2 linked regions of the Homo sapiens genome follow. The protein of the gene in region 2 interacts with the protein of the main gene of each other region in a pairwise test. Each region holds a gene or a part of one and is shown on either strand. Other genes may lie near its edges.

What was found.
Region 1: the proteins of C5AR2 (region 2) and SCN1B interact in a two-hybrid assay, tested with the Homo sapiens proteins (one large-scale study listed by BioGRID and IntAct).

Annotation. Positions count from the first base shown.
Region 1 is NC_000019.10:35,028,662-35,032,569, reverse strand, and holds the start of SCN1B (sodium channel regulatory subunit beta-1 isoform a precursor), read right to left. Parts: upstream 2,101-3,908; 5' UTR 1,750-2,100; coding exon 1,710-1,749; intron 1,300-1,709; exon of another isoform or gene 790-1,299; intron 43-789; coding exon 1-42. UniProt on the Homo sapiens protein: Regulatory subunit of multiple voltage-gated sodium (Nav) channels directly mediating the depolarization of excitable membranes.
Region 2 is NC_000019.10:47,334,953-47,338,760, reverse strand, and holds part of C5AR2 (C5a anaphylatoxin chemotactic receptor 2), read right to left. Parts: intron 1,667-3,808; exon of another isoform or gene 1,592-1,666; intron 1-1,591.

The sequences.
Region 1 (3,908 bases), about 12 Mb from region 2:
TCTCCGAGTCCACCTCCACGCAGCCCCCGCAGGCTGAGGACACTGTGGGGACAGCAGGCTCAGGTCAGGCAGAGGCACCCATTGCCCTAAGCAATGCCAGACCCCTCACAAACCATCTGTTCCCCCCTCAATGATTACCAGCAGACAGGACTGGATGCTAGGCTGAGCCCTGTCACTCACTGCGTGACCTCAGCAAGTCATTCATCCCTGAGTCTCAGTTTCCCTCTCTCTTGTTGAAAGAAATGGTCCTTTGCTTCCAGCAATGGCTGGGCCCATTTTCATACATTAGGTAGGGCCTTGTACATGGGAGGCCCCATAAGTGGGACTGTCAACGTTGCCGGTAACTCAGACTTTATGCTACCCGAGTGCCCCTTCCTCAGAAAGTCCCTTGCTGGAGGAACCCAAGCATCTAGGTGGTAGAATGAGAATTCCAGCTAAGTTAGAAGTTTAAGGTGGCAGTCATTTTCACCATTAAATTGTAAAACCAGCTAGCTCCAGGAGAAATGGGTTGGGAGAAAAGGTCTGGGGGTGGGGGATTGTGGGGAGGTGGGCACTGAAACCGGGGCTGACCCACACTCAGCCCCTCTCCACAGCCCACAAGCCCCTGTGTGAGCCATCCCCTCCCCGGCCTCTCCTGCCTCCATCATCCCCTCTTCCCCAGGCTCCTCGCCTCTAGAGCTCTTCCCACCCCAACCCCATCCACTACTCAAAGCTTTCCTGAGCTCTCTCCTGCCCCAGGGCTTTTGCAGCCCACTGAATTCCAGTCTTAGAATTCCTTCACACTCTTACCTGGCACCTCCTTTCTGCCTCCCAGCACTCTGTAGCTAACGCTGTGTCTCTTCTGCTGCAGCCCTGTGCTGTCCTTGTTTCCTGATCCTCAGGACTTCTCATCCATCCGCCTCCCCTGCGGTCCCTTTCAGACTCCCTGAGGGCCTCTGTCTCAGTCCCTCCTATCTTTGTCCCTCTCAGGGGTCTCTCTGAAGGTCCCTCCACTTTTTGTCCACTCTCTGGGCTCAGAAGGAGACCTCTCCTAATCTCTTTCCACCTTTCTACGTCTATCCCTTTTCAAACTCCATGCAAGATTCTCTCCCGGTGTTCACGGGCACCCGCATCTCCCTCTCTCTTCTCTCCATCTCCTTCTGCCTTTCTCAAGTTTCCCTTTCTCCATCGCGCTCAGTCTCTTAACTCTCTCTCTCTCTCTCTCTCTCCAATACCCCTCTCTCTGTCTCCGTCTCCCCCTTGACCCCCATGTCCCCAGCATCCCAGCGGACCACTCCGGTGCGCTCCGAGTCCTTCTCTGTCTCTCGCCCCCTTCCTCCCGTCTTCATCTCTCCCTGTCCCTCCGTCTTTCCCGTCCCAGTCTCCGGGCGCCGCCTTCCCCCCACCCCCCTCCCGCGGCTGTGGGTGTCACATTGCAGCCTGCGGGGCTCCGGGAGCAGCTGACTCCGCGTTTCCTCGCCCCCGGCTGGGCGCCTGCAGCCGCCAGGCTGTGCCAGCCCGGCCCCCACCCGCTGGAGCCCACCCTCACCTCCACTGCCCTCCCCAAGCCCGGCTCCCGCGCGCACAACTTCTGAAGCTGACTTGGCGGGGCCCGGGGATGGGCCGGGGGTGGCCCTCGCGCGGCTGCCCCGTGTCCCGAGCGCCACTCCCGCCGCCCCGCCAGTGCCCCCGCGGTGCCCCCCGGCCGCGCGCGCCCCCCGCGCACTCACCCAGTGCCGCGCCGACCACTAAGGCCAGCAGCCTCCCCATGGCTGCGCGGCGCGTGCTGCGCCCCCCTCCCGGGCCGCCGGTATTAATAGCGGGGCGAGAGGCGGCGGGACCTGGCGGCGGTTAGAATGTCCCCGGGAGCGCGCGGGCGCAGCAGCTGCGGCTCTGGGACCGGCGAGGGGGGAGGAGGGGGGGCGCGGCCCCCCCGCTCCGGTTACCGCCGGGGGCCCAGCCCCGGGGCCCGGCGTCCGGGCATCCCCGCCGCGCGGGCGGCGGCCGCTGCTCGGGCTGCTGCGCTGGCGCGCGCAGCCGGGCACATCCGCTAGGTGCACCGACCCCGGTCCCGCTCCGGCTCGGGCGCGCTCGGGCGCGGACCGCGGTCTCCTGCGCACTGCAGCGGCGGCGGCGGCGGCGGCGGCGGCGGCCTAGGGAGGGACGAGGGAGGAGAGGGAGGGGGCGGGATGAATCACCGCGGGGGGAAGGCGCGGCCGCCCAGCCTTTGCCGCAGCGGCCCGGGAGGCGCCCGCTGCACCGGCCTCTCCGGGTGGCGCAGGGACCGCGACTTCTGGGAACGGGGAGGGTGGTCTGTGTGTCTCCGACCCCGCTGGGGCTCTGAGGACCACCCCCCCCCCCCCACCTTCCCAGGGAGTCTGGAAAGGTCACCCCCAGAGTCACAGGAGGACTTAGAGCGCAGTTTGGGGGCCGGGTTTCCGACTTCAAATGATGGAGGTCATCCTCAGGAGTTCCAGAGGGCGAACCTCCAAGTTATCTCCCCTGAGCCCTGATATCCAGGCCTGGGGGTCAATGTGCAGGGACCCCAAGTAGGCATTAGAGGAGGGTGGGGGGCCGTCAGGCTAGGACTACAGCTACAATCCGGACCTCACCCAAGCAGGCGGGGCACCCTGGAGAGAAGCAGCCCCGGGAATCTGGAGGTGCTGTTTCAGGAGGAGGACCCCTTCGTGATCCCCTGCACCCATTTATGTCCCTGATGTCACCTTCTACCCCTCTTTCCTCCCACTCCACTCTGGCTGTTCAGGCCCTCCTGCTGTTCCCAACACAGGGAACCCGTTCCTGCCTCAGGGCCTTGGCCCCAGCTCTCCCCTCTGCCCCGGCTCTCCCCCCCTGCCCCGCCCCTCTCCGTGGGCCTCCATGGCTCCAATGTCACCTTCGTCAGGTCTTCTGTGTCCCTTCAGGGTAAACTGCCTTCCCCGCTCCTAACCTGACCTCCTTTACTCTTTACCTCTTGTTGAGTGTTTTCCACAGCAGCCTCACTACCTGACATTATGTTCTTTTTTTTTTTTTTTTTTTTTTTTTTTTTTTGAGATAGGGTCTGGCTCTGTTGCCCAGGCTGGAGTGCAGTGGCTGATCTCGTCTCACTGCAACCTCCGCCTCCCGGGTTCAAGCGATTATCCTGCCGCAACCTCCCAAGTAGCTGGGAGTACAGGTGTGCACCATCATGCCTGGCTAATTTTTTTATTTTTTAGTAGAGACAGGGTTTCACCATGTTGACCATGCTGGGATTACAGATGTGAGCCGCCCCCCGCTATCCCAGCACTTTGGGAGGCCAAGGGGGGCAGATCACCTGAGGACAGGAGTTCGAGACCAGCCTGACGAGCATGGTGAAACCCCGTCTCTACTAACAATACAAAAAAAATTAGCTGGGAGTGGTGGTGGGCACCTGTAATCCCAGTTACTTGGGAGGCTGAGGAAGAATCGCTTGAACCCGGGAGGCAGAGGTTGCAGTGAGCCAAGATCGCATCACTGCACTCCAGCCTGGGCAACAAGAGCGAAACTCCGTCTCAAAAAAAAAGGCCGGGCGCAGTGGCTCACGCTTGTAATTCCAGCATTCTGGGAGGCCGAGGTGGGCGGATCACGAGGTCAAGAGATCGAGACCATCCTGGCCAACATGGTGAAACCCCATCTCTACTAAAAATACAAAAATTAGCTGGGCGTGGGGGCACATGCCTGTAGTCCCAGCTACTCAGGAGGCTGAGGCAGGAGAATCGCTTGAACCCGGGAGGCAGAGGTGGCAATGAGCCGAGATCACACCACTGCACTCCAGCCTGGTGACAGAGTGAGACTCCATGTAAAAAAAAAAAAAAAAAAAAAAAAAAAAAATCTCCCAGGTGAGGATATTGTCTTGTGTCTCTTGCACCTTGAACTGTTCCTGGCACATTGTAGGTACTCAATCAATATTTGTC
Region 2 (3,808 bases):
GGCTCAAGCAACCCTCCACCTCACCCTCCCAAGTAGCTAGGACTACAGGTGCACACCATCATGCCTGATTAATTATTATTATTATTATTATTATTATTATTATTTTGGAGGTCATCTGGTTTCACCATGTTGCCCATGCTGGTCTTGAATTCTGGGGCTTAAGCAACCTGCCTTGTCTCAGCCTCTCAAACTGCTGGGATTACAGGCATGATTGCCACTGTGCCTGACAATAATAATAATAATAAAATTATTATTATTGGAAGCCACTGTTTCTTGAACATTTTGTGTTTTGTGTCAACTTTTTTTTTTTTTTTAGGGACAGATATTGCTCTGTCACTCAGGCTGGAATGCAATGGCACTATCTTGGCTCACTGCAGCCTCGAACTCCTGGGCTCAAGTGGTCCTCCCACCTCAGCCTCCTGAGTACGTGGGACTACAGGTGTGCACCACCACACCTGGCAAATTTATATATATATATTTTTTTTAGAGACAGGGTCTCGCCATCTTGCCAACGCTGGAGTGCAGTGGTGCAATCACGGCTCACTGCAGCCTCAAACTCTGTGCTCAAGTGATCCTCCCACCTCTGCCCCCTGAGTAGCTGGGACTACAGGCAGTGGCCACCACGCAGCTTTAAACACTGTATCACTGAAACCTTGTTTTATTTTATTTTATTTATTTTTTTTTTTGAGACGGAGTCTCACTCTGCTACCCAGGCTGGAGTGCAGTGGCGCTATTTTGGCTCACTGCAACCTCTGCTTCCTGGGTTCAAGCATTACTCCTGCCACAAGCCTCCCGAGTAGCTGGGATTACAGGCGTGCACCACCATGCCCGGGGCTAATTTTTTGTATTTTTAGTAGAGACGGGGTTTCACCATGTTGGTCAGGCTGGTTTGGAATTCCTGACCTCAAGTGGTCTGCCTGCCACGGCCTCCCAAAGTGCTAGGATTACAGGCATGAGCCACCGTGCCTGACCTCACTGAAACCTTATAATAACTGTCTGAATTTGACACTATTGTTATATTTATTCTACAGATAAGGCACAGAGAAGTTAAGTAATTTACCTAAGATCACTCAGCTAAGTAGGTAAAATTTTTTTTTTTGAGACAGAGTCTCGCTCTGTCATCCAGGCTGGAGTGCAGTGACGCAATCTCGGCTCACTGCAACCTCCGCCTCCAGGGTTCAAGCAATTCTCCCGCCTCAGCCTCCTGAGTAGCTGGGACTACAGGCACCCGCCACCATGCCCAACTAATTTGTGTATTTTTAGTAGATACGGGGTTTCATCATATTGGCCAGGCTGGTCTCGAACTCCTGACCTTGTGATCCGCCCACCTCAGCCTCCCAAAGTGCTGGGATTGCAGGCATGAGCCACCGCGCCCAGCCCTAAGTAGGTAAATTTCAAAGTGTGTTAGTCCCCGCTGCAGAACCCCATGCCCTAGAATATTACCATCTCCAAATCTTGGGCTCTGGAGAGCTGGCAGGCAGCACAGCAAGTGGTCCTGAGCAGCCCCGGCCTCCATGACTGTGGGTGTCAGTTGCAGCTGGCTGTGCCTATTTCCTCATCGGGGAAACAAGAGTCATTGAGGTGAACCTACCTCTGGTTTTGGGAGTCCTTGAGGAGTTAAGATTTGTCCAGCACGTGGCACACAGGCTCCGGTAGACAAAGCTGTGGGTAGCACAGGACCCAGGCAGGAGTCCCCACCCCCCCACCCCCACAATGTCAGAGTGACCTGGCCCTGAGGCTCTCTGCTGACTATTATGGGTTGGCTGGCACTGCTCAGCACTCCAGCTGGTGTTGAGGCAACAGGAAGGACAGAGAGGAAGTTGGGGCACTCCCCTCCCCCATGCCAGGTAGCAGTGAAGAGTCCAGGCCACTTGGTGTGTGTATTCGGAGTCTGGCATTCCACTTTCGTATTATTTTTATCCCTAGAGTAAAAGGTGTGCAGAATTTAGCCAGGTGCAGTGGCTCACACCTGTAATCCCAGTACATTGGGAGGCTGAGTTGAGGAGGAAGGATCGCTTGAGGCCAAGAGTTCAAGACCAGCCTAGGCAACACAGTGAGACCCTCTGTCTCTACAAAAAATTTAAAAATTAGCCAGGCATAGTGGTTCGTGCCTGCAATCCCAACCTTTTCTAAGACTGGGGTGGAAGATCACATGAGCCCAGGAGTTTGAGGCTGCAGTTAGCCATGATCGCGCCACTGCACTCCAGCCTGAGCAACAGAGTGAGACCCTGTCCCAAGAAAGAAAGAAAAAGAAAGAAAGAAAGAAAGAAAGGAAGGAAGGAAGGAAGGAAGGAAGGAAGGAAGGAAGGAAGGAAGGAAGGAAGGAAAGAAAGAAAGAAAGAGTACAGCATTTAAAAACTGAACCCCCCCTAGCCGGGCACAGTGGCTCACACCTGTAATCCCAGCACTTTGGGAGGCCGAGGTGGGCGGATCACTTGAGGCCAGGAGTTCAAGACCAGCCTGAGCAACATGGTGAAACCTGGTCTCTACTAAAAATACAAAAATCAGCCAGGCATGGTTGTGGGCTCCTGTAATTCCAGCTACTCGGGAGACTGAGGCAAGAGAATCGCTGGAACCCGGGAGGCAGAGGTTGCAGTGAGCCAAGATCATGCCACTGCACTCCAGCCTGGGCGACAACAGCGAGACTGCATCATAAAAAACAAACAAACAAACAACAACAACAAAAACCCTCAAATTCCTACCAGCTGTGTGGCCTTGGGCAAGTCACCTAAACTATCTGTGCCTCAGTAAAATGGGAATAATAATATTCCTGCCTTAGGGGGTGTTGTAAGAATTCAACAAGTTAGAAGGGTAGAGCTGAGTGTATAGCGCTGGTTTTCAGTGGGTGTCATACGTAGGCTAGCTGCTGTTATCACTGTCCACACGCATCCTCTCACCCCGCAAAGACTCCACCCTTCCTGGCCCTTGTTGATTACAATCCAGAAAACGAAAACTTTCTTTTTTTTTTTTTTTTTTTTTTTTTTTTTTTGAGACGGAGTATCACTCTGTCGCCCAGGCTGGAGTGCAGTGGTGCGATCTCGGCTCACTGCAAGCTCCACCTCCCGGGTTCGCATGATTCTCCTGCCTCAGTCTCCCGAGTAGCTGGGACTACAGGCGCCCGCTACCACTTCCGGCTAATTTTTTGTATTTTTAGTAGAGACAGGGTTTCACCGTGTTAGCCAGGATGGTCTCAATCTCCTGACCTCATGATCCGCCCACCTCGGCCTCCCAAAGTGCTGGGATTACAGGCGTGAGTCAACATGCCCAGCCCAATCCAGGAAACTTTCTGTGCATATAATTTGCCCAGCTGTAAGCCCAAAGCAATGGTATCGTAGATGGCATTTCCTTTGTAACGTCTTAACCAGAAATGGGAGCTTTCAACATACGTTGTTCCATTTCTTCATCTTTTCCACTTAACGTGCCCGATATCTGTTTTCCTGTCTATCTGTACAGATATCAACCCCATTCGTCCTCAAAGCATCAAAAACAGTCCACTGTCTGCCCAAGTGGTGCTTATTAACTAAAGGCCATTCAATAACAATGGTAAGGAGAATAATGAGAAACAGGGCCAGGTGCAGAAGCTCACACCTGTAATCCCAACGCTTTGGGAGTCCTAGGCAGACGGATCACTTGAGGTCAGGAGTTTGAGACCAGCCTGGCCAACATGATAAAATCTCATCTCTGCTAAAGATTTAAAAAAAAAAAAAAATTAGCTGGGCGTGGGGGCGAGTGCCTGTAATCTCAGCTACTCAGAAGGCCGAGGCAGGAGAATCCCTTGAAGCTGGGAGGTGGAGGTTGCAGTCAGCTG